4 linked regions of the Homo sapiens genome follow. The protein of the gene in region 4 interacts with the protein of the main gene of each other region in a pairwise test. Each region holds a gene or a part of one and is shown on either strand. Other genes may lie near its edges.

What was found.
Region 1: the proteins of KHDC4 (region 4) and QRICH1 interact in binary tests that used the Homo sapiens proteins (3 or more experiments, as listed by UniProt).
Region 2: the proteins of KHDC4 (region 4) and PIDD1 interact in binary tests that used the Homo sapiens proteins (3 or more experiments, as listed by UniProt).
Region 3: the proteins of KHDC4 (region 4) and ZRSR2 interact in binary tests that used the Homo sapiens proteins (3 or more experiments, as listed by UniProt).

What each region holds. Positions count from the first base shown.
Region 1 is NC_000003.12:49,091,032-49,098,848, reverse strand, and holds the start of QRICH1 (transcriptional regulator QRICH1), read left to right. Parts: upstream 1-4,777; 5' UTR 4,778-4,937; exon of another isoform or gene 4,938-4,955; intron 4,956-5,238; exon of another isoform or gene 5,239-5,901; intron 5,902-6,392; exon of another isoform or gene 6,393-6,452; intron 6,453-7,817. Other genes in the region: QARS1 (glutamine--tRNA ligase), read left to right, coding at 157-249, 369-496, 591-657, 732-857, 2,770-2,820. UniProt on the Homo sapiens protein: Transcriptional regulator that acts as a mediator of the integrated stress response (ISR) through transcriptional control of protein homeostasis under conditions of ER stress.
Region 2 is NC_000011.10:798,671-802,258, forward strand, and holds the end of PIDD1 (p53-induced death domain-containing protein 1), read right to left. Parts: coding exon 3,525-3,588; intron 3,421-3,524; coding exon 3,295-3,420; intron 2,955-3,294; coding exon 2,775-2,954; intron 2,696-2,774; coding exon 2,548-2,695; intron 2,451-2,547; coding exon 2,315-2,450; coding exon of another isoform or gene 2,243-2,314; coding exon 2,092-2,242; intron 1,997-2,091; coding exon 1,873-1,996; intron 1,782-1,872; coding exon 1,663-1,781; intron 1,575-1,662; coding exon 1,461-1,574; intron 1,345-1,460; coding exon 1,145-1,344; intron 896-1,144; coding exon 637-895; 3' UTR 514-636; downstream 1-513. UniProt on the Homo sapiens protein: Component of the DNA damage/stress response pathway that functions downstream of p53/TP53 and can either promote cell survival or apoptosis.
Region 3 is NC_000023.11:15,785,883-15,793,521, reverse strand, and holds the start of ZRSR2 (U2 small nuclear ribonucleoprotein auxiliary factor 35 kDa subunit-related protein 2), read right to left. Parts: upstream 3,039-7,639; 5' UTR 3,027-3,038; coding exon 2,986-3,026; intron 2,589-2,985; coding exon 2,509-2,588; intron 2,503-2,508; exon of another isoform or gene 1-2,502. UniProt on the Homo sapiens protein: Pre-mRNA-binding protein required for splicing of both U2- and U12-type introns. Selectively interacts with the 3'-splice site of U2- and U12-type pre-mRNAs and promotes different steps in U2 and U12 intron splicing.
Region 4 is NC_000001.11:155,917,414-155,924,413, forward strand, and holds part of KHDC4 (KH homology domain-containing protein 4), read right to left. Parts: intron 6,275-7,000; coding exon 6,214-6,274; intron 4,506-6,213; coding exon 4,448-4,505; intron 4,216-4,447; coding exon 3,962-4,215; intron 2,630-3,961; exon of another isoform or gene 2,496-2,629; intron 260-2,495; coding exon 86-259; intron 1-85.

The sequences.
Region 1 (7,817 bases), on a different chromosome or scaffold from region 4:
AGTCTGGTACTGGGAACCTTTCATCTCCTCATCTCTGTCAGTCCATCTACTTCCTGCTTCAGATGAACCAATCTTTGCCAGACACGGGGGTAGGGAAGCTTCCCCACTTGTTTGACCCTTGCAGCCTCATGTGTCTACCCCACTTCCTATCTCTAGGAGCCAGAGCCAGGATTTAAGCGCCTGGCTTGGGGCCAGCCTGTGGGCCTGAGGCATACAGGCTACGTCATTGAGCTGCAGCATGTTGTCAAGGTGAGAGCCAGCTGCAGCCTTCCTACTGCAGTGCCTGCTGGGGCCAAGATGTGAGTATAGCCTGCAGTCCTGGTTGTGGTTCCCGGGTCTAATTGCTGCTCCCCTCCCCCCACTTCCAGGGCCCCAGTGGTTGTGTAGAGAGTCTGGAGGTGACCTGCAGACGGGCAGATGCTGGAGAGAAGCCAAAGGCCTTTATTCACTGGGTGTCACAGCCTTTGATGTGTGAGGTTCGCCTCTATGAGCGACTGTGAGTGAACAGAGCTGGGGTGGGGGCAGGTACAAGATGCACATTGCCTGCTATGGCTGCCCAGCTGGGGGTATGACCTTCACTTTGGCTGCAGATTCCAGCACAAGAACCCTGAAGATCCTACTGAGGTGCCTGGTGGATTTTTAAGTGACCTGAACCTGGTAGGTTCATGAGGTTTGGGGTGAGGGAGGTAGGCCTCCCTGGTTGGATGGTTGCCTGAGTTCCCTGCCTGCAGGCATCACTACACGTGGTGGATGCAGCATTAGTGGACTGCTCTGTGGCCCTGGCAAAACCCTTCGACAAGTTCCAGTTTGAGCGTCTTGGATATTTCTCCGTGGATCCAGACAGCCATCAGGGAAAGGTGCTTGACTTTACTCACCTGCCCTCATCTGCAGCAGTGACAGTGGCTGCCGTTCATTGTGCCAAGTGCTCTGCATACATTCCCTTAGTTAATCCTCACCACCTGAGGGAGTTGGTATTCATATTCTACTAGTGAGGAAACTGGCACTGAGGATAACTCCAGGCACAAAATTTTGTATGAAGGCTGCCTTTTTTTTTGAGACAGTCTTGCACTGTCGCCCGGGGCTGGAGTGCAATGGCACCATCTCGGCTCACTGCAACCTCTGCCTCCCAGGTTCAAGTGATTCTCCTGCCTCAGCCTCCCGAGTAGCTGGGATTACAGGCGCCTGCCACCACACCCGGCTAATTTTTTGTATTTTTAGTAGAGATGGGGTTTCACCATGTTGGCCAGGATGGTCTCGAATTCCTGACTTCATGATCTGCCCGCCTCGGCCTCCCAAAGTGCTGGGATCACAGTCATGAGCCACTGCACCCGACCTCTTTTTTTTTTTTAATTATTATTTTTTGAGGCAGGGCATGGTGGCTCACACTTGTAATCCCAGCACTTTGGGAGGCCAAGGCAGGCTGATCACCAGAGGTCAGGGCTTACCACCAGAGGTCAGGAGTTCGAGACCACCCTGGCCAACATGGTGAAACACCCGAAAGATATTATTTTTAATATCTTTCGTTAAGGCAGCTAATAACCTTTCTTTTTATTTATTTTAGAGACGGGGTCTTACTCTTGCCCAGGGTGGTGTGAAGTGGTGCAATCATAGCTCACTGTGGCCTCAAACTACTGGGCTCAAGCTATTCTCCTGCCTTAGCTGAGACTACATGTGCACACTACCATGCCTGGCTAATTTTAAAACTTTTTGTAGAGGCAAGTTCTCACTATGTTGCCCAGGTTGGTCTTGAATTACTGGCTTCAAGCAGTCCTCCTGTCTCAGCCTCCTAGAGTGCTGGGATTATAGGCATGAGCCACTGTGCCCAGCCACCCTGCCATCCTTTTTTTTTTTTTTTTCTTTTTTTGAAACAGTATCTCGCCCTGTTGCCCAGGCTGGAGTACAGTGGCACGATCTCGGCCCACTGCAACCTCCGCCTCCCAGGCTCAAGCCATTCTCCTGCCTCAGCCTTCCAAGTAGCTGGGATTACAGGCACATGCTACCACGCCCGGCAAATTTTTTTTTTTTTTTTTTTTTTTTTTTTTTTTTTTTTGAGACGGAGTCTCACATGTCGCCCAGGCTGGAGTGCAGTGGCACAATCTCGGCTCACTGCAAGCTCTGCCTCCCGGGTTCACGCCATTCTCCCGCCTCAGCCTCCCAAATAGCTGGGACTACAGGCGCCCGCCACCACTCCCAGCTAATTTTTTCTATTTTTTAGTAGAGACGGGGTTTCACCGTGTTAGCCAGGATGGTCTCGATCTCCTGATCTCATGATCCGCCTGCCTCGGCCTCCCAGAGTGCTGGGATTACAGGCGTGAGCCACTGCGCCTGGCCTAATTTTTGTATTTTTAGTAGAGACGGGGTTTTGCCATGTTGGCCAGGCTGGTCTTGAACTCCTGACCTCAGATTATCTGCCTGTCTCAGCCTCCCAAAGTGCTGAGATTACAGGCGTGAGCCACTGCACCAGCCCACCCTGTCTTTCTTACTCCTTAAAGTAGGGGGCAAACATGGTGGTTGTTATAATCCATATAAAACTATACCCTGGACCCCCACGGTGGTTGTTATGGTCCATATAATACTATAGCCTAGAGCCCCATTCAGTCCCTTACCCAAAGTCACAAAGTTATTGAGGACCCGGGCCTCCTGACCCTTAGTCCCTCGGCTTCTTTGGCTTAAGAAGGATGTTAGGGGGAGGTGTCTGTGGTGAAACCTGCCCAGGCCTCCCTGGCCTTGTTCTGGGTTGGTGGTCATCCTTTTCCCTCTGCCCTCCAGCTTGTCTTTAACCGAACTGTCACACTGAAGGAAGACCCAGGAAAGGTGTGAGCTGGAAGCACTGAACCTACCTCATCCTCCTGGAGGGTGTGGCTACCCTCGCCACCCCAAATTCCATGTCAATAAAGAACAGCTAAATTCTCCTAGAGTCTGTGTGTTATCTCTGCACTTCTAGCATCTGAAGGCCCTGAAGACATGCTGGTGGTGGTGGTATGATTGGGGGATGGAGATGTGCCTTTTGCACATTTTGTCTGTGAGAATGGACTTTCCCAGAACAGAGTGGTACTGACAGCTTTGAAAGCACCGGTGCACTTTTTGGTGCTTAAAGGCAGGGGCCTGGGTAGGATTCATACCCTCCGCACCTGGTCTGAGAGAATGGAGGGCCCTGGGGTGTTTGTCCATGGTTAGGACCCCTGTGCCAGAGGGATCTAAAAGGTTTGTTTCTGCTGGTGTGGAGAGGCCTAGCTCCCAGTCTGATCATTCAGCATATAATTTTTTTTTTTTTTTTTTGATACGGAGTTCCACTCTAGCCCAGGCTGGAGTGCAGTGGCTCAATCTTGGCTCACTGCAACCTCTGCCTCCCGGGTTCAAGCGATTCTCGTGCCTCAGCCTCCCAAGTAGCTGGGATTACAGGCGGGCGCCACCACTCCTGAATAATTTTTGTAATTTCAGTAGAGACGGGGTTTTGCCAAATTGGCCAGACTGGTCTGGAACTCCTGACCCCAGGTGATCTGCCCGCCTCGGCCTCCCAAAGTGCTGGGATTGCAGGCGTGAGCCACTGCGCCCAATCAGCCTATAATTCTTTTTTATTTTTGAGACGGAGTCTCACTCTTGTCCCCCAAGCTGCAGTGCAATGGTGTGATCTCAGCTCACTGCAACCTCTGCCTCCCAGGTTCAAGCAGTTTTCCTGCCTCAGCCTCTTAAGTAGCTGGGATCACAGGCATGCACCACCACACTCGGCTAATTTTGTATTTTTAGTAGAGACGGGGTTCACCATGTTGGCCAGGCTGGTCTCAAACTCCTGACCTCAGGTGATTCACCCGCCTCGGTCTCCCAAAGTGTTGGGATTACAGACTTCAGCCACCGTGCCCGGCCCATTCGGCATATAATTTTTGAGTGCCTACTACGTGCCAGGCAAAGTGAGATGGGGCATACGTGCTGTGGTGGCCTTCCAAGTTCACGGGAGGGGAAATGGGTGACCAAGCACTGTATGGGAGCGGTCTCCCTGGGGCCTGTGCAAGACTGGAAGAGGTTCCTGACCCAGCCTGGGCCTCAGAAAACATTACTCTAACGAAGTGACTTCTGAAGGGAATCACGAAAGACTACGGGGAGTTTGCCAGGATAAGAGGAACAAGGGCAAAAGCTCCGAGGCAAAAAGAGTCTACAGCAGGCTGGAAGCCCTCTGGGGGCAGTGTAGGCTGCTGCTGAGGCCCGAGTGTGCCTGCAGCTTTAACGCCTTCCACATTTTCCCTGTATACAAACACTAGGCTACCCGGGGGCCCGCTTTAAGGTGGACCCAACTGCGGAAGGCTGAACTCAGATGGCAGCAGACAGCGGGAGTACCAGATGCTGACTCCTCCAGGAGGTGAGCAACCTAGAGGCTTCCCAGGCAGGGCACGGCTGGGGACGCCAGGCCCAGGACAGAAGTTTGTGGGGTCCACCTTAAGCGAGAGGCCGAGCCTGGCCAGGCCCCGCCCCGCGTGGGCGTGCTCGACCAAAGGAGGCTCTGGCGGGCGACGGAAGGTGGGTCCAAAGAGCTAGCTTGGAGCCCTAGCCTTCCGAGACTCCACTACTAGGCCAAGCCACGGCCCTAGCTCCGCCCCACATGGAGAGGCGTCCATGGGCGGAGCGAGCCGCTCCATACCCTAGGATCCACTATCCGCTCTAGCGGCCAGAAGCGCGGCCACCTTCCCCTGCTGAAGCGTTCACTTTAATTTTGGCCGGTAGGCAGTCCCAGATCTCGCGGGATCCGACGCCCCGATTATCGCGAGAGGAGCAATCGGCTCCTATTGGCTGTGAGGGTTGAATGTAAGATGGCGCCCAGGGAGCTGTGAGGAGAAAACCCTGTCGGTCTTGGAGCGACGACGGCAGAACCAGGGTCCCTGGCGGTGCGGCGGGGCCGGCGGGTGCAGCGGAGGCGGCGGCGGCGGCGGCAGTGACGTCGCCGGGTGAGGGCTCCAGTGCGGGTGGGGATGCGGCGAAGCTGTAGGCCTGAGACGGGGGGCCCACCCCACACAACGGCGGGCGGGGGCGGGCGGGCCACTACCGCTGGGCCCTGGAGAGTTCGGGGCGGCTCCGGAGCCGAAAACGTTCCTGGGCTAGCGCACCCCGCCCTGTGGATGGGGGAGGGGTGGCCCGGGGATTTGGGTGGGCGCGGCGCGAGATGGCGCGCCGGTGCGGGCGCGCGGCTGAGCCTGTTTTTACGCGCGCGCGCTGTGCGGCTCTCGGTGCGCGTGGCCGCCGACGTGCGCGTTCCCGGCCCGGATATCTCTGCTCTAGGAGCTGTGGCCCGTGGGCAACCGCGGCTTTCTGGAGCGCGCGCCCGTGACGACCCCCAGTTTTGGGGCGCGCGCTCTGATATCGGGTGGCGGTGCTGCCTCGAGAGCGCGCAGGAGGCTTCTGCTGAGCAGAGGGCCGGCCGCGGCTCGTTGCGCTGGGAAGGTTGAGGATTGGGTCCTTTCTGGTCTGGTGACGTTCCCGGGCATCCGTGGCCTCGGCCTGGAGAGAAACCAACCAGCTTTGCTGTCTGGCTTGCGGTTCCGCTCCTCTGTGAGGGGGGCGAGATTGCCCGTTCTCCTCGAAGAATGCCGTTACTTGAGGCCCAAGTACGGTGCGGGTGCTTGGGTAGGGTGTTTCTCTGCTTCGGAAACCAAGCCCTCTTGGTTTGAGAGGGCAGTGAGCCCCTTCGGATTTCCTCACCTTGTACTGGGCTTTCTGCCGGGCAGGGAAGGTTAATATTAGAAGGCCCTTGAGTGGTACCTGCTTATCTTTCATTAGAAACTAATACGTCCATAAGCGTAATTCATACACGTCACCTCTGTGCGCTCCGGAAGGGAATTCGCTTATGTGGCCCATGTGAACTCCGAGCTCTAAAATGCCAGTTTAAATCCTTAAACGCAGCTTTTCTTTTGCGTAAGTGGGAGGGGCTTACTTTATTATATTAAAGGCCCACCTTTGCCTCAGCCAAAAAGTTGGCCTTAAACAAAATGGAACAACCTGAGAATCAGTGCTTTACCTTTTTTGAAATTGCAGAAATCCCAGCAGAAATTACTAAAATCTGATAGTGTATCACTGTAAAAGTCACTTTTGGTGTAGGATTTCAGTCCTTTTCAGCTCTTTTTTTGACCCTGCCGCTGTGTTTTGGTGTCAAGGAAGTTCTAGGTTTGTTCTAGAGAAATAGGCACCTCTTTTTTCTAATACAAAACATCTGCTAGTTTGATTTACAGTCTTGCTCAATTAAGCTTAAGGAATAGGAAGCTAAGAGGAAGTAAAATTAGCCATCAAATTTGATAATGGTGGGGTAGTTCTTTCTAATGTACTGTATTGTTTTTAAGAACAAAGTTAAAATTATTAATAAAAAGAGGCTGAGGATGGAAGGAACTTTTTTGTTCTATCTTCTTCAGAATATTAGAAGTCTTAAGAACTCAGGACAAGCAGCAGAAATACATGCAACATGGTGACTGGTGAGTTAAAATTGTTCATATCCTGGAAGTATCTGTGCACAGTTTTTTTTCTGGTAATACTGAAGCATTACAAATCCTGTCAATTCTGGGTGCTGTCTTCCAGAAACTATTAGGTGCTGTAAAATGAAGATGTGGGAGAACGGCATCTTTGAATTCAGCCACAGTTCGCTACTTGCTCAGTTTTCTCCTCTTAGGATATAAGTCAGTGGAACCCGCAGATTTAAGCGTTTGCAGGCTCAGCTTTTAAACGGACCTAAATGGTTCAAAGAAAAGCTGTAAAGTTTTTCTAGGATACACTTAAAATTTTGACTTTTTTTTTTTTTTTGAGACGGAGTCTCACTCTGTCACCCAGGCTGGAGTGCAGGGGTGTGATCTCGGCTCACTGCAACCTCCGCCTCCCTGGTTGAAGCGATTCTCCTGCCTCAGTTTCCCAAGTAACTGGGATTACAGGCATGCAGCACCACACCTGGCTAATTTTTTGTATTTGTAGTATAGACGGGGTTTCACCATGTTGATCAGACTGGTCTCGAACTCCTGACCTCGTGATCCACCCGCCCTCGGCCTCCCAAAGTGCTGGGATTACAGGCGTGAGCCACCGCGCCCGACCAAATTTTGATTAATTTTTTAGGCTTGCTTGTTCTGGGTTATCTTTATTTTTAACTATTAAGCTTGAGATCTTCCTTTTAAATTGGTGTTTATAAATACTTTTTCTCCAAGTTTGTCAACTAAGATTTACTTATTAGATGTCTTCCTTCGGGTCCTCTCTGATGAATTTTTCCTATAACTCTTCGAGAACCTCTGCAGTTCCACATCCTCTCTCCAGCTTATGTTGCCATTTCAAACTAAAGATCAAATAGTGGTTTAATTTTCTTGTAAATTTGAATTGCTCTAGGAAAGTAACCAAAGTCAGGGGCTCTGGATGTGGCTGCCTTTCTTTAAGGCAGCTTCAGAATCAGGGATGTCTTTCCTTACTTTGGATATGCTTTTTTTTTTGGATATGCTTTCTTTTAGTTTAATTAGTTGTGGTTTATACTTCATGTGCCATATTTCTTTCTTGTCTGCTTTTTAAATGGCCACTCTTGATCTGTAAGGGTCTCTGATTTCTGAATTAGCCTTAGAATTAGGTGTTACATGAATACCTGTTCTTTTCTTTTTATTTTTATTATTATTTTTTGAGACGGAGTCTCGCTCTGTTGCCCGGGCTGGAGTGCTGTGGTGCAATCTTGGCTCACTGCAACCTCTGCCTCCTGGGTTCACGCCATTCTCCTGCCTCAGCCTCCGGAGTAGCTGGGACTGCAGGCTCCCGCCACCATGCCTGTCTCATTTTTTGTATTTTTTAGTAGAAACGGGGTTTTACTCTGTTAG
Region 2 (3,588 bases), on a different chromosome or scaffold from region 4:
CAAAGCACCCCACTTGGGGCTGGGCGCAGTGGCTCACACCTGCAATCCCAGCACTTTTGGAGGCCGAGGCAGGCGGATCACTTAAGGTCAGGAGTTCGAGACCAGCCTGGCCAACATGGTGAAACCCCGTCTACTAAAAATACAAAAATTAGCCAGCGTGGTGGCAAGTGCCCTAGTCCCAGCTACTTGAGAGGGTGACGCAGAATCGCTTGAACCTGGGAGGCAGAGGTTGCAGTGAGCTGAGATCATGCCACTGCACTCCAGCCTGGGTGACAGAAACTCCATTTAAAAAAAAAAAAAAAGTAGCCCATGTGGGTTACTTTGTAGCACAGCTCCTCCCTCCCAGGAAGATGAGGACCCACAGGAGGCCCCAGGCACAGTGGGAGAGGACAGGACCAGGATGTGGGGCACCTGTGCACACAGGCCTCCCTCCCCGCAGGGGCCAGGCCTCTACCCCACCACCCTCCGCCCTCCAACGGCTTCTCCATCCAACAAATAAATCAAGCTCTGAGGTGAAAGAAACAGTGCAGTTTTGTTGCTCACAGGGACCCGTCCCCACACACTGGAGAGACTTGAAGGTGGGGGCTCTGCCCATCCACTGGGGAATATCTGGGCCAGCCTAAAAGTCTGTGGGGCCTAGGCCTGGGCAGGCTCTGGGGGCTGTGGAGCCGAGGAGCCAGGCAGAGCGGGGTCCTTGGGGGCCAAGCCCATGCGTCGGATGCTGTCCTGGTACTTGCGGCGGCCGAGCTCCAAGACTGCGCGCACCTCTTCAGCCACGTCCTGCCGGTCACTCTGCTCCAGGGCCTGCACCAGGAGCCCCACAGCCCCTGGCTGCCCAGCCTGGCGCTCAGCCCAGGAGAAGAGCATGTGACGGATCTGCTCATCCAGATCATCCCTGCAGGCAGAGGATGGGCGACAGAGGGGTCCTGTCCACCTGCCCAGGACCCCCCACCACACTCTGCCTCGGAGTGTGGGGGAGTTCCCGGCTCCTGGGGCCAGGTGCGGCCAGACCTTTCCTTTCCAGCCTGGTGTTTGCCCTTCCCCCACCTCCCCTGGAAGAAACTTCTGTCAGAATCAGGTGGGCCCTCCAGGCAGCCAGGGCTCAGCCCTGGGGCTGGCAGCCAGCGGGCAGTGGGAGCCTCACCGGAACTCGTGCCGGATGCGCTGCACCTCCCGGTAGGACACCCCCAGGTGCAGGGCCACGGCTGGCCAGTCCAGACCCAGACGCCCAGCCACACTCAGCAGGTTGCTCTGCGTCAGAAAGCCGGTCTCGGCATCTCCCAGATTCAAGGGTGCCAAGGAGAGGCCAGCCCCCCGCCGTGGCCCCTCGGACCCTCGAAGTCTCTGTTGGAAGGAAAAAGTGCATTAAGCCCTGGGCTCCACCCCCAACTCCACCATGTCACCCTGGTCACCCCTGGGCCTCGGTCCTGCCCCGCCCCTCTGCTGTCCCTCAGTCCCACCGGCAGCTTGATGGGCAGAGTGGCCATCCACAGGGCGTCTGCGCCCTTCCTCTGCCGGGCAGCCTCAGCCTCCTCGGGCACCCGCACAGGCACCGCGCCACGGTAGAAGGACACCTGAAGGGGCATCGAATGGGGTTCGGAGTTCGGTCCTCTGCCCAAGCGGCCTGGGGGGCCTCTCCCCTCACCCACTCCCCTCGCCCACCTGGCCCCGCACAGCCTGAGCCTCCCGGTCCAGAGTGGTGGTCACGTATACCTCCTTCACATTCTTCAGGTGCGAGTAGAAGACAAAGCAGATTCTGCCCTCCACACAGTCAGGGCGGTCTAGGGGACAGGGGTGGGCTGAGCAAGGAGGGCTCGGGGAGGACGGTAAGGCTCCCCCTCCAGGGCAGGGAGCATCCACCAGCATCCCTACCAGCATCCACGTCGATGCCGCGCTCGAAGGCCGCAAAGAACTCTTCGCCCTCGAACATCTCCACCGTGTCAGAGGGCTCGGGGCCCCGGTACCGCTCCAGCAGCCGCCGAAGGGTGGCGTCCACCTGCGGGGAAGCCCGTGCAGCTCAGGACCCAAAGCTCTGCACCCCACCCCAGCCCTCTGGTCACCACCCTGCTGCCCTCCGGCCCGTGCCCCCACCTTGTTTCGGGGCAGGCACTGCAGCAGGACCTGCTCAGGGTCCCGGCGCCGCTGCAGAGCGATGAGGTTCACACGGTGCAGCCGCAGCCGCTCCCAGGCCTTCCGAGCCAGGCCTCCCACACAGTTCTTGGTGGTGTACCAGAGCCAGTACCTGGGAGAGCTGGGGGTGAGGAGGGCTGTACAGACTGGGGGAGGGGGGCTGAGAAAGCTGGGGGGCACTGACCAGGAGAAGTGTGTGACCTGGAAGCGTGCGTACAGGTGGGTGAGCTCCAGGACCACCTGAGCTGTGATGTCATCCCAGGTGGCTGCAGGAGGGGCCCAGTACAACAGGTGCAGGCGGGAGCGGTCCAGACTGAGGCCTGGGGATGGGAGGGGCAGCGAGCTGAGGCCTCCTGGCCGGAGACCCCCTCCACCCTATGGCCACAGGTCCAGGTATGCCCCATGGCTGCCTCTCACCTGTGATGCCAGAGGGCAGAGGCAGCTGCACGGTGACCGGTTGGAGGAAGCTGGGGGGACCGCTCTGTGACAGGCACAGCAGGGGGCTCACTGCAGCCTCTGGTTCTCCCAGGAGGGCCTGCAGCTCTCGGCCAGCCATGCGCACCACCTGGGGCAGACAGGCCCCCTGAGCACCTGCCTGTGGGCTGAGGCGCGGCCTGCCACCCTCAGTGCTGTCCTGGCCATACCTGCATGGAGACTCGACGAGGCTCCTCAGTGGCCCCAGGGGGGAAGATGACTTTGACCCCAGGATGACCCGAGGAGCACAGCAGTGTCCCCTCCGGTGGCACCAGGCAGGCATTGGACACAGGGCGGGAAACCACAAGGAACCAGGAGAAGTGGGGCACCTGGCAGTGAGCCCAGAGCCGCTGGGATGGGGGAGAGAGGAGGTCACAGGAGCCTGGGTCAGGGCACAGCCAGTCAGGGACACAGGGAGCAGGATCCAGGAGAGACGGGGCGGGGTGGAAGGTGCCAGGGACACAGGGAGCAGGATCCAGGAGGGACGGGGTGGGGTGGAAGTTGCCAGGGACACAGGGAAGCAGGATCCAGGAGGGACGGGGTGGGGTGGAAGGTGCCAGGGACATAGGGAAGCAGGATCCAGGAGGGACGGGGCAGGGTGGAAGGTGCCAGGGTGAGGCTCTGGGCAGAGGTGCACGGCTCAGGGCAGCAGCTCTCCACTCGCCACCGGCAGGCCTGGGTGGCCCTCACCTGGGGTGCCTCTTCCTCCAGGTAGGTCTCCAGGTCACCCCAGCTGTTGTCATTCCGGGTCCTGACCACCACTTCACGGCAGCGCCGGGCCTGCGGTGGGGTGAAGAGCAGCCACAGCCCCACATCCTGCCAGACAAGGATGGTGTGAGCACTGGAGCCATGCCCGGGCCCGCACACTGCCCCTGCCATGCCCTGGCCCACACACTGCCCCCGCCACGCCCTGTCCATGCCTGCTGGAAGGCCACCCCATGGGGCTGCAGCTCCAGCACATGGCTGAGCAGGGCGTCATGAGGA
Region 3 (7,639 bases), on a different chromosome or scaffold from region 4:
TATTCATGAAGTACCACTAGGCAAAGAATTGTGAGTTGGAGTGGGCAAAAGTAGGAGCAGAAGTGCAGAGACAGGTGCTTAGTCTTGGATATGCCATTAGTTACATAATCTTGACAGACCAGTGACCTGGATTTAGTCCATTAAAATGGGCTAAACTACCATGGGACATGACTCGCCTGACTCTCCACAGAGGCTCATTCTGAACACATTTTGCTAAGTAAAAAGGAAAAAAAAAATCAAAACAATACAAATACCAGCTGTTATAGGATTTAGTGCAGGAAAAGAAAAAGAGAAAGAAGTTAAAACAAATTTAGAATATATAATATTTAGAATAAAACAGATTAAATGAACAAAGTAAAGTAGCTGAAAATTTCAAGGGGGGAGAGACGAAGTACAATAAGGGCCTCAATAACTCCAACCTATTCTACTTTTCCTTTTATCCCTGATGCTTTGTTCTGCCTCTAGTGGATGAGTTTTCAACTAATAAGACAGAAATGCTAACACAGGTTGCAGTTAAACACACTGCTCCTTCCATTCTAAATATCCCAGTACTGACACTAAAATAATTACTCAGGAACACCAATGGTAAATAAAACCTCTATGGCTATGTTTCTCAAGGTCCAAGAATCCTAGTTACTTGAGGCCATGGTCTCTGGATTTTAAGAATTGTCTAGGATAATTTCATGAGCATATTCTGGATAATGCGGATGACAATCATTATAAGCCAGTACTACTGTGTGATTTCAGTGCTCCCATCTGGATTTATAACTACTACATAATTTTATAACTAAGTCCTAATTTTATTGCATTAAGCAGGTAGATTTAATACATAAATGTTAGGTTTTGCCATGTGAAGGTCAAATGACCATCTGTACAAATAAAGGTTCTACAGTAATTTCATAGAAAAAGTGGTAAATAACTATAAGGCAACATTAGTAGAGGCATTCCAAACTCCCATCAGTGCCATATACATATTGTGAGGAGCATTAGTTTCACATCATCCCTAGCATTACCTGATGTAGATTTAAATTTTACCGAATGTGTAATTTCATTTAGTTTTATAATTTATAAATGTATTTTTATTTGTTTGTTTGTTTTTTGAGACAGAATCTCACTCTGTTGCCCAAACTGAAGTGCAGTGGCAGGATCTCGGCTCACTGCAACCTCTGCCTCCCAGGTTCAACTGATCCTCTTGCCTCAGCCTCCTGAGTAGCTGGGATTACAGGCACCTGCCACCAAGCCCAGCTAATCTTGTATTTTTAGTAGAGGCAGGGTTTCATCATGTTGGCCAGGCAGGTCTCGAACCCCTGACCTCAGGTGATCCATCTGCCTCGGCTTTCCAAAGTGCTGGGATTTCAGGCATGAGCCACCACGCGCCCAGCCCATATATTGTTTTATAGTCAAACAATGGCTTCAGGTCAGGTGTGGTGGCTCATGCCTATAATCCCAGCACTTTGGGAGGCCGAGGTGGAAGGATTGCTTGAGGCCAGGAGTTCGAGACCAGCCCAGGCAACACAGTGAAATCCCGTCTCTACGAAAATTTTAAAAATTAGCCAGGTGGGCCAGGGGCGGTAGCTCACGCCTTTAATCCCAGCACTTTGGGAGGCTGAGGTGGGTGGATCACCTGAGGTCAGAAGTTCGAAACCAGCCTGGCCAACATGATGGGGTTTCACCCCATCTCTACTAAAAATACAAAAATTAGCCGGGTGTGGTTGCGCACGCCTGTAATCCCAGCTACTCGGGAGGCTGCAGCAGGAGAACTGCTTGAACCCAGGGGGCGGAGGCTGCAGTGAGCCAAGATCGTGCCACTGCACTCCAGCCTGGGCAACAGAGCGAGACTCCGTCTCAAAAAAAAAAAAAAAAAAAAAGAAAAGAAAAGAAAAAATTAGCCAGGTGTGGTGGTGAATGCCTGTAGTCCCAGCTACTAGGGAGGCTGAGGTGGGAGGACTGCTTGAGCCTGGGAGGTGGAGGCTGCTGTGAGCCGTGGTTGTGCACATCCCTCCTGGGCAACAGAACAAGACCCTGTCTCAAAAATAAATAAATGAGCTTCATAACTAGTATTATGTTGATATATATTTGAATAACATAATAATTTGGGTAAACCAAGGGTCTCATATTAGTCAAGTTTGAGAAAAACTTGCAAAACGTCTAATTAATACCTTCAACTCCTGCTGGTTTTACGAAGAAAAACATTCACCGAATACTTACTACGTGTGCAAGGACTGTGCTAGCTGCTGTAATTCATGAAGCTTGCAACTGTAATATTAGATACTTTATAAGTTACACAGAATCAGTGGGCGATCATTCACCAAGACTTCCTCTTCCTGCCTTTAGTATGTTAACATTGTTTCTGACATGTGTTTCTAAATAACTACTTGGGGGCAGAAGTCACAGCTATTTTTCCTCCGACACAATATTTGACTTCCTTCTGACACTGGGGCTTCAAGTTAGGGCTGGAGTGGACAGAGCAATTTCACAACACAGAAAACAGAATAAAGAGTCCATCACCTGAGTCTCTCAGTCGAGCAAGTTCCTGCCGACGTTTCTTTCGTTTCTCCTTCTTCAGGGCGGCCCTGTACTTTTTGTGGCTGGAAGATTAAGACATATACACGACGATCAGCGGCTACAATGCAGCGCTGCCCGAGCTCCCCGCTCCTCTGTGCCCAATGAAAGGAAATAGTTCGGGTGCTGAGGAGAGAAACCTTGCTTCCTGTATTTTAATTACAGAACAGCCATCTATCATCGCCTCATCCTCCCACTCCCAGACAGTTCTTCTCCATCCGCCAACCTGATCCTCTCCTCGCTTGCCTGAGCCACAGCCGCCCGTGCAAGTCCGGGGAGGGCACCAGAGCGCGCACCAGGAAGGAATGGAGCTGCCGCGGTGGCTCACTTAGCTTGGCCCAGCTTCTCTTTTCTTCCTGCCACCACATCCTCCATGCCCACGATCGGCCCGCTCGCCTGCTCATCTCCCCGTACGGCGCTTACCTTGGTTTCTCGGGAAACGTCATCTTCTCGGGCGCAGCCATCTTGCCGGCACCGCCCCGCCCCTCCAGGTCTGGCAGGAAAGGGCGGGCCTAAGAGTCGAGACGGGCACGCGCAGGCGCGGGTACCGAGCAACCTCCACCAGCGTGGGACTTGAAACGGAAAGCCGGAGGTACCCTTCGGCGGCTCGTCTTCCAGAACCCTGCTCAAATAAATACCTCCTTCCAGCAAAAATACTCTGGGGCTTTTACCCCGCCCTAGAAGTAATTGTCGCTTCAGCACTTGCCCAGTGCTGTATCACTGTCTCCCTCCTCGCCCTAGCAGGACGTGTTGTGGCTAGGCGGTTAAAGTCGTACTCTGCCGCTTTTCTCAGCATCCACTCATGAAGTCACATCGCGCACAGAGCTGCTCGCCCGGCTTTATTTCCGACCTGTCCAGGTTCCGCGTCCTTCCGCCGATCCACCTATCAGCGCCTCAGACAAAGCTCCAGACTTCGCTCCCTGCCAGTCACACCTGTTCTGGTCCCTTAAGCAAACCTAACTCCCAGGGCTGCAAAGCTGTTACCTCTGCCCCTGAGGAGTTTACAATCGAGGGGGCAGAGAAGAACCAATACATAATATGATGCAGGCAAAGATGAAGTTTACCTAACATAGTCCACCAAGGGATTCAGGGAGAGCTCTCTTTTTTTTCCTTTTTTCTTTTTTTTTCAGTATCACATGCGACTCAACTGCAGTATCAGGGACAGCTTTCTGATGCTAAGAGTTGAGTTTGGAAAGAAGATGCCCTTTACCCAGAAGGAGAAGGGTGGGAATGCAGTTACAGTCAGATCAGCATAAGCAAAGGCGCTGAAAGGTGAAAGTGGAATATGCTGGGAACAGCAAGAATTTTGGCAATCGAATTTATTTATTTATTCATTTCTTATATATTAGAGACAGGGTCTTGTCTTTCACCCAGGTTGGAGTGCAGTGGCGCAATCACGACTCGCTGCAGCTTCGACCTCCTGGGGTCAAGCAATCCTTCCACCTCAGCCTCCCGAGTAGCTGGGAATACAGGCGCGAGCCACCACGCCCGCCCAGCTATCCAATTTAAAGTGCAGTTCGAGGCTGGGTGCAGCGGCTCACGCCTGTAATCCCAGCACTTTGGGAGGCCTAGGCGGGTGGATCACCTGAGGTCAGGAGTTCGTCAGCCTGGCCAACATGGTGAAACCCCGTCTCTACTAAAAATACAAAATTAGCCGGGTGTGGTGGCACATGCCTGTAGTCCCAGCTACTCTGGAGGCTGAAACAGGAGAACTGCTTGAACCCAGGAGGTGGCGGCCGCAGTGAGCCGAGATGGCACCACTGCCCTCCAGCCTGGGCAACAGAGCAAGGCTCCGTCTCAAAAAAACAAAACAAAATAAAGTGCAATTCGAGAATATCAAGGAATATAGTTGTTGTGATGGGCTGGGAGGGCTAGGTTAAGGAGGGCCTGGTGTGCCATGTTAAGACGCTCTGTTTACATTCTGTAGAGACAACAGTGAACCGTTGAAAGCTTTTTAAATAGAGGCTTATTGTGGTTGTGTTTGTGTTTTAGGTAAATCACTCTGCTTTGCAATATAAAGGATTTAAAAGATAAAACTAGAGTATCACAATAATCTAGGTGAGAGGTGTTGAGGAATTAAACTGGGGCAATGAGAGTAGGGATTGAGAAACTAAAAATCATCCCAACTAATAATCAGACTGTAATGTACACATACAAGGCCAGGGACAAGGCCAAGCAAAAAATGTTCCTCACAAGGATGCATTACAGCTGTAAAATGACTAATAACCTCTATCTTTTGAGTGATTGAATAGCTTCCTTGGCCTACCTTTGTTCCGTTCTCCTCCAAATTAAAGTTTCTGAGATACTCAATTACTAAACTGCCTTCCTTCCCCTAATCCCTCCTTAGAATTACTCAGCTGAAGCCCAAACTCTGCATAAAACCTCACCCTAATCTCTCTTATACTGACACACTTGGAGCAACACATATGCCCTTCACCCCCAAGTTGACCTTGTCCAGCTCAGTGCATTGGTTGGCTGTGATCTTGAGTAAATTCCTTAATGTCTACTCCTGTTTTCTCATTTGTAAAAATCAAGATAGTAATAATAGTTCCCATCTCATAACCCTTTTATTGTGAAAACTGAGTAAGATAAGCCATGTTATATGCTGATACAGTGCCTAGCAATAGTGAATGCCTCCAAAACTTTAGCTGTTACATCATCTCATCACCATCATCATTAGTGTGAAAACTTCCTGACCCCTCAAGAGGGGATGAGGCGCTGTATGCATTTCCAGTACAAGTATTCCACCTTTTATAACATCTATCATGGTTTACTACACATTGTCACCTTTACCTTTCTGCTTCTTGACTAAATCTTAAACTAAACTCTCTAGTTGGAGGTTTGGCAGTTGTATCCCCAAACTAGAGTGCCCTGGATGGCACAGAATGTTGTAGCTATGCAACTCACCAATTTTGCTGGTCCCTGTGATCAGAATTTACGCTGAGAATTGCTGCCCGTTCTGAAAGCATCAGTGTTTAAGTTGTTGTAACATTTCTTCTGAATCAGACCAGACTTTCACTTCAGAACAATAAGTAACAATTCCTTCTAAGAAATCTCGGCTCACTGCAACCTCCGCCTCCTGGGCTCAAGCGATTCTTCTGCCTCAGCCTCCTGCGTAGCTGGGATTACAGGTGCATGCCACAACCACCTGGCTAATTTTTGTATTTTTTAGTAGAGACGGGGTTTCACCATATTGGCCAGGCTGTTCTCGAACTCTTGACCTCCGGTAATCTGCCCGCCTCGGCCTCCCAAAATGCTGGGATTACAGGCATGAGCCACCGCACCCGGCCATAGATTTTTTAGTGAGTTAGAAATGAATGTAAATTTCCTTTTATAGGAGTTAGACATTTATTTTTAACAATTAACCACTGAATTCATTTTCAGAAATAGGCCTGAATTGCTTGTTAATTTCATTACAGGAAGTAACTCTAAAAGCCAATTCCACTTCCAAACTATAATTACCATCATCTGAATTTAACAGGGAAAGACATCTTCCAAGACTTCTTTTGGGCGGATGCTTAGTTTTAGAATAGCCAACTTTACCCTAACCCATGTACAAGACAGTTCTCCAGGTGGCCTTGGACTGACCCAGTTCTCCCTTCTTCCTTGCTTGTAGTTCTTAAGAATAACTGTAGAATGCACTGGGAATGCAATATCCTGATATGGAGGAACTGCCTGAAACAGGTTGGCCTTGTTGTTGTCCCTCCTAGGGAATGTAACATCTTGATTTAGGGAACTGTTTGAGACAGCGAGGTTGTGTTCCTCTTTCCCCTGGAAGGAGGATGTACTTTAAAGCTTTGCCCAATGAGTTATGTGGCTCCTATGGTATATAACCCAAGGCAGGCTGTGGTGCAAGTGGGGCACGTACAATCAAGACTCCATCAGCCCCGCCCTGGGCAGCTTTCTTGAGCCCTGGGGGACTGGCTCACAATGGAGCCAGGGCCTCTTTTGTCCCTTGCTTCCTGTCTGTAAGTAATAAATCTGCTTCATGTAATGTATTGGGTGTGAGTGTGTTCTGTCACAATGGAATCAGACAGGTTGGTAACCAGTGTACACTGAACCTGCTTGGCACCATGTAGCCCTGGGAAAGGAGAAAGGCGGTCACAGCTTGCCCTATATGGTGATGCCAGCACACTGTGCACTGTACTGTGCAACAGAAAAAGGTGCACTGAGGAGGATCGGCTGCTTCTTCCCATTGTTGCTTCTTTAGTAAATCCCCTATGAGTTTTTAGTCGCTTTCTAATCTACAAGTTAAAGGATATCTCATTAATTTTACAGATATATACATATACTGTAACAATAGGAAGGAAGTCTTTCACCAACCACTAATACTGTAAAGAAAGCATTGTATCGATCTAGTATTATTTAATGAAGACGGACAGCAATTTTAATACAATCTTCTTTTCCAAGACCTTTGACAGACCTTAGGCCCATTTTCCACCTTTATGTCTAGGAAAGTATAAGTAAAACACTTTTGAGGGCATAAAAAACACAAGCTTCTTGTTAAGGTGTATCAGTAGCCAGGGAAATCTGCTGTGCCCCTTTGAGGGTCATCTAACTAAGGCATGGAGAAAGAAACTGCCTCAAGTCAGTTTCTATCACCTCTGCAGGGAAGCTGGCCATGCAAACCAGGACATGGTTCAAAGTGAAAAAGAGTGTGGTTAATAATCATGCCAGAACACCAGGTATAAGATGTAAGGGCAAGTCAGGCATTCTGTACATTGCTTCTCCCTTCAGTTTGGAAAACTCACTGCAGTAGGGTTTTGACTTATCGTTTCACAAGACAGCTAGGAAGGCCAGGCACAGTGGCTCACACCTGTAATCCCAGCACTTTGGGAGGCCAAGACGGGTGGATCACGAGGTCAGATCGAGACCATCCTGGTTAACACGGTGAAACCCTGTCTCTACTTAAAATACAAAAAATAGCCGGGTGTGGTGGCGGGCGCCTGTAGTCCCAGCTACTCAGGAGGCTGAGGCAGGAGAATGGCGTGAACCCGGGAGGCGGAGCTTGCAGTGAGCCGAGATCGCGCCACTGCACTCCAGCCCGGGTGACAGCGCGACTCTGTCTCAAAAAAAT
Region 4 (7,000 bases):
AGAATGATGTGAATTTATCTTTTTTAAAGGGAGAATATAGTAGAAGAATAAGGTGAAGATAGGAAAACAGGGTATTTTATTTAACCTGGTATCCAAGCAGTCCAGATTCCCGTTCATCTGGTAGCTCCTCTGTGAATCGTCTCTTCTGTGCCTGGGGCTGACTTGGGAGTGGGGGCTGGGGCTGGGGCTGGGGCTGGGGGCCAGCAGGCAAGGCAGTTTTGACAGGAGCAGCAGGAATAAAAGGACCACCCATCGGACTCTGGGACCAAAACAAACCAAGGAAGAAAAAAAGTGTGAGAATGCCCAAGGAATAAGTAAACAATGATTACAATATACTTTAAGGATCAATAAGTATCATATGAATTTTGCATCTTCAGGTCCTTAGTTTCCTTCATGTATAATTTGGTAACATTATCACCTAAGCCTTCTCACCTTCATCCTAGGGAAACATGAAATTGACAACCTATATACAGTGCTTTGAACTTTTAAGAAAACTCTGTTATGCATTTGGGCTACTAGGAGTAAACATGACCATTAACAAACAGAACTCCAACCACTGACAGTCGATGTGATTAGCTTTCTGTAATAAGCTTTCTGTTATTTATAAATGCTGCTAATGCTTGTGGAAGAAGCAATTTCATCTTCCACTCCCTTAGTTATCACTAAGCTACTATGTCAAGATTAAGTCTAATGTTTGAAGATGTTGTTCCAAAAAGGAATAAGGGGTATCAGAAGACAGTATATATTACAGAGGAATAGGCAGGTCTGAAGAGAAAACTCTATACAGCCATGCATTGCTTAGCAATGGTAATACGTGTTTTGTTTTGTCTTGTTTTTGAGACAGAGTCTCAGTCTTGCTCTGTCTCCCAGGCTGGAGTGCAATGGTGCCAACTCGGCTCACTACAACCTCTGCCTACCAGGTTCAAGCGATTCTCTTGCCTCAGCCTGCCGAGGGACTACAGGCACGTGCCACCATGCACAACTAATTTTTTTTTGTACTTGTGATCCATCTGTCTCAGCTTCCCAAAGTGCTGGGATTACAGGTGTGAGCCACTACGCTGAGTGGGAATATGTTTTGAGAAATGCACTGCAAGGCAATTTTGTCATTTAACAAATGTGTACTTATACAAACTTAGATGAAAATAGCCTACTACACACCTAGGCTATACGATATGGCCTATTCTTCTAGGCTACAATCCTGTATAGCATGTTACTGTACTGAATGCTGTAACACAATGGTAAGTATTTGTGTATCTAAATGTAGAAAAGGTACAGTAAAAATATGCTACTATAATTTTACAGGACAAGCATCATATGTGCAGTCTATCACTGACTAAAACGTTGTAAGGTGGCTGACTGTATTAATAACACAGCTAACGTTTACTGACAGATTGGATCATCTTACTTAATCCTTGCAAACCTCTGAGATTTTTATCACTGTGCCCATTTTACATCTAAGGAAAACCAAACCCTAGACAGGGCAAGTTACATCCCAATATCACACAGCTCAAAAATGGGAAAGCAAGATCAACCCTGTCAATCTAATTCTAACTCCCAGTTTTTTTTTTTTTTTTTTTTTGAGTTTTGCTTGTCACCCAGGCTGGAGTGCAGTGATGCAATCTCGGCTCACTGCAACCTCTGACTCCTGGGTTCAAGCAATTCTCCTGCCTCAGCCTCCCAAGTAGCTGGGATTACAGATGCCTGCCACCGCGCCCAGCTAATTTTTGTATTTTTAGCAGAGACAGGGTTTCACCATGTTGACCAGGCTGGTCTTGAACTCCTGACCTCAAGTGATCCACCCGCCCCAACCTCCCAAAGTGCTGGGATTACAGCTACATGAGCCACTGCGGCTGCCTTAACTCCCTGCTTTTAACCACTCTGCTGTATTGCTTCCCAATTACAAAGGACTGACCTTCAAAAGTAGAGACCTACAGAGCTGTCTAAATATAAAAATTAAAATAATTTTGGCTGGGCACGGTGGCTTATGCCTGTAATCCTTGCACCATAATCCTAGCATTTTGGAAGTCCGAGGCTGCGGATCACCTGAGGTCAGGAGTTTGTGACCAGCCTGGCCAAAATGGTGAAACCCCATCTCTATTAAAAATACAAACATTAGGCCGGGCGCGGTGGCTCACGCCTGTAATCCCAGTACTTTGGGAGTCTGAGGTGGGCGGATCACGAGGTTAGGAGATCAAGACCATCCTGGCTAACAAGGTGAAACCCCATCTCCACTAAAAATACAAAACAATTAGCCAGGCATGGTGGCAGGCGCTTGTAGTCCCAGCTACTCGGGAGGCTGAGGCAGGAGAATCGCGTGAACCTGGGAGGCGGAGCTTGCAGTGAGCCAAGATGGTGCCACTGCACTCTAGCCTGGGTGACAGAATGAGATTCTGTCTCAAAAAATAATAATAAACAAAAATAAAATAAATAAATAAAATAAAATAAATTTGACTAGAGACCACAAATAAAATTTAGTTCATAGCTTTTTTGTTACACACTGTGCAACCCCCTTCAGTGCTCACAGCCCACAGGTAAGGGGACTGGGCAATGGTTCGAGGCTGCCATTTGCTATGGCATGGGTACACTATGAGAGGCCCACAGAGAAGGACCCACCATAAATCCATTACCATGCTCTCATTAAGTCTCTCCCCTGCCTCCAAGACCAGTATATATAATCCATCCAGATTATTATCCAGACATCTACTCTTTTCCTAAAATTCTACTTTCATGATTTAAGAAATTGTGGCCAGGTGCGGTGGCTCACACCTGTAATCCCAGGACTTGGGGAGGCAGAGGCAGTTGGATCATGAGGTCAGGAGATCGAGATCATCCTGGCTAACAGTGAAACCCCGTCTCTACTAAAAATACAAAAAAATTAGCCAGGCGTGGTGGTGGGTGCCTGTAGTCCCAGCTACTTGGGAGGCTGAGGCAGGAGAATGGCGTGAACCTGGGAGGCGGAGCTTGCAGTGAGCTGAGATGCGCCACTGCACTCCAGCCTGGGCAACAGAGCGAGACTCTGTCTCAAAAAAAAAATTTTTTTAAGTATACATTTCTTAAGTTATAAAAGAAACATACCAGCATTTATAATCCTTACATTTGAAAAGTTTATATATCTCTTACATAATGTTGCTTTTTAAAATTTTTTTTGAGACAGTCTCACTCTGTCACTGAGGCTGGAGTGCACTGGCACCATCTTGGTTCACTGCATCCATGACCTCCTAGGCTCAAGGGACCCTTCCATCTCAGCCTCTTAAGTAGCTGAAATACAGGTATGTGCCACCATGTCCAGTTAATTTTTTTTGTAGAGATGGAGTCTCACTATGTTGCCTAGGCTGGTCTCAAACTGTGCTAAAGCAATCCTGCCTCGGCCTCCCCAGATGCTGAGATTATGTTTCCTTCTAAGATTTGAAATGCTAACTCAGTTCCAATTACTGAGAGGTGTGGTGAAGGTAGCCCCATTCTCCTTGAGGACTTTGTTAACACTGCAAAGGTAAGGTTAGGCAAACAATGGCCAAGGGTATGGCAAACTATGACTGTGGCCTGCCACCTGTTTTGTAAATAAAGTTCTACTGGAGTACAACAGCTATGCTTATTCATTGAGGTATTATCCACGGGCTGCTTCTGCACTACAACCACCGAGTGTGATAGTTGTGACAGAGAATGTATGGCCCTTAAAGCCTAAAATATTTGCCATCTGACCCTTTATAGCAAGTGTGCCCACCATCCCCACTTTAAACAGCTATTTGGTGTGCAAGACTTGTGAAAATATAAACTTCAGGATGACATACACACATACACACTAATCCAAAATATTCAGGTAGGTTGGTGGTAGGAACACAGAAGACAGCAGGAAAAAGACATTCCACATCACATGATTTATTTCTGGAATACCACTACTTCCCCTCTTTCCCCAGTTTTTCCTAAATTCAGTAATATGTTGTTGCATATCCTGACATCCTACCTGTCCAGTGCTAGCTGGAGGCTGCACTTGTGTTATCGGGTATTGTGTTGGCACAGGTGGGACTCCAGTAGGTAATGCCGGCAAGACTCCAGGTGCTAATGAAACAGCTGGTGGCACTATGCTTGGTACTCCGTAGGGAGGTTGAACTGGCTGCTGAGGAGGGGGAACAACAGGGTAACCAGACTGATAGCCATTGGATGGATAATATGGTGGTTGAGGAGGGACACTACTTATAGCAGAGGGTTGTGTATAGCCTGAGGGGGAAGAAAAAAAGTGTTTAATCAGCTGCAGCAGAATGAGACAATTTAGCTGAATATTAAACTTAATATCTAGGGAAGAAAAATACTGAGGCATGAATGGCTTTCCAAATTACCCTAAATTAAAGGGAACATTAATAGTGCCCTGGCACAGTCTAGCCTCAAGTATCATAGTTACACATAACTATCACTAGCAAAATATTTTTTAAACACTTCAAGATGTACACACCTGGTAAAGGTACAGCAGTATTAATCTGATTCACAAATCTAGAGTATTCAGCATGAACCTGAAAGAGAGGGGGAAACAAATTAACATGGGACAGCCGAAGCTGTGCATTTACAAGGGTCTGATTACATAATTCTAGGACCAAAGCCATTAGGAATTAAAATATATCTACCAATGTTCCAATCAAATTTAAACTTGTTTAACCCACATTTTTTTTTTTTTTTGAGACAGTCTTGCTCTGTCACCCAGGCTGGAGTGCAGTGGCGCGATCTTGTATCACTGCAAATCTTTTTTTTTTTTTTTTTTTTGAGACAGTCTCACTCTGTCACCCAGGGTACAATGCAATGGCATGGTCTCAGCTCACTGCAACCTCCACCTTCACGGTTTAAGCGATTCTCCTGCTTCAGCCTCCCAAGTAGCTGGGACTACAGGCGCGTGCCACCGCACCCAGCTAGTTTTTGTATTTTTAGTAGAGACGGGGGTTTCACGATGTTGGCCAGGCTGGTCTCGAACTCCTGACCTCATTATCTGCCCGCCTTGGCCTCCCAAAGGGCTGGGATTACAGGCATGAGCCACCGTGTCCAACCCACCTCAACATTTTAATAAGGCAAATCTATAAATTATTAAGCCAATTTTGGGAATTAGGAGAATAATCCTGAATCCCCTAAACCATACTCAATTCTGGGGTACAGAATCATTTAGAAAGCCACAGAAATTAAGTAACTAGGAAATTTCCAAGTTGTTAGTATAACTGGTGAGACCTCAATTCATTCACATTTACTGGGTGACTTTTCCTCAAGGAGCTCACATTTAGTAAGGGTTTCGTATTTTCCTCATACTTCCTTCCTATATATTATTAAGTCCATAACCTCAAGTACCAACAAAGATGGGAAATAGTCAAGAAAATTATCCGGTACAAGGGTTGGTAAATCAGGTGCTATGTACAAAAGTAAAAAAACAAACAAAAAAACCAACCATGAGCTACCCAATAAGGCACCAGAGAACACAAGGTTGAACATATTCAGTGCAAAACCTGATTTCCTCTAAGTGCTATAAAGACAGTCCTGGCCGGGCGCGGTGGCTCACGCCTGTAATCCCAGCACTTTGGGAGGCCGAGGCAGGCGGATCACGAGGTCAGGAGATCGAGACCATCCCGGCTAAAACGGTGAAACCCCGTCTCTACTAAAAATACAAAAAAGTAGCCGGGCGTAGTGGCGGGCGCCTGTAGTCCCAGCTACTTGGGAGGCTGAGGCAGGAGAATGGCGTGAACCCGGGAGGCGGAGCTTGCAGTGAGCCGAGATCCCGCCACTGCACTCCAGCCTGGGCGACAGAAAAAAAAAAAAAAGACAGTCCTAAGGTTTAACTTTTGGTTGTTTATAGAATAAAAAGAATGCATAATCAAATGAGCAATCATCCCCCAAACATGTCTAACTGGTTTTAAATTATTATAGTTCTACCCTTACTTCAGACTGGAGTTATGCTAATACAAGCCAAAGAAAACCAACACAATGACCAGGTGCTAGGAGAGAGGAAAGGCATGGGATGATTTCTCTCTCAAAGACTCCAGAAGGAACCAATTCTGCCAGCACCTTGATTTCAGACTCTGCTTCCTGGACTGTGATAGAATAAATTTGTGTTATTTTAAGCCACCCAACTGCCATAACTTGTTATAGCAGTACTAGGAAACTAAACAGGTGAAAGAAACAGCTAAGACATACTCCAAAATGGCAATTGCTCTTCTGAATGAGTATCAGACAAATACAACTCACTGTTTGCAAAAGATTCTCACAAAGCTTCTTGGCAGCAGCCAGGCCTTCTGGTTTGGGGTGACTGCAAAGAAATAACCAGGAATTCAAAGGAGAGAAAAATAAATAAAAGATGCAGAATTCTGCTTTCATTTTCCATGCTATTTTACATATCTACATTAATACATTCACTGTAGCTCAAATCTAGGCCTCTGAAAATCACAAAACAGAAACACAAAACATAAGTCTTTTAAGATATAACCACTATCATTACCACAAATATTTTATTAGTCTTTCTCTGAGTAATGGTACTTCTCGATATAAAAATGTTTAAAGTTCATAAAATTACTATAAAACGTATTAATATTGACATAGGTTTAAATGAAAATTATTTCAGACTTATCACAGCTCACTTTAAGATTTGCTTTTTTTTGGCCGGGCGTGGTGGTTCACGCCTGTAATCCCAGCACTTTGGGAGACCGAGACAGGCGGATCACGAGGTCAGGAGATCGAGACCATCCTGGCTAACACGGTGAAACCCCATCTCTACTAAAAATACAAAAAATTAGCCGGGCATGTTGGCGGGTGCCTATAGTCCCAGCTACTTGGGACGCTGAGGCAGGAGGCGACAGAATCTTGCTCTGTTGCCCAGGCTGGAGTGCAGTGGCGCGATCTCAGCTCACTGCAAGCTCCACCTCCTGGGTTCACGTCATTCTCCTGCCTCAGCCCCCGAGTTGCTGGCACTACAGGCGCCTGCCACCATGCCTGGCTAATTTTTTTGTTTTATTTTTAGTAGAAACGGGATTTCACT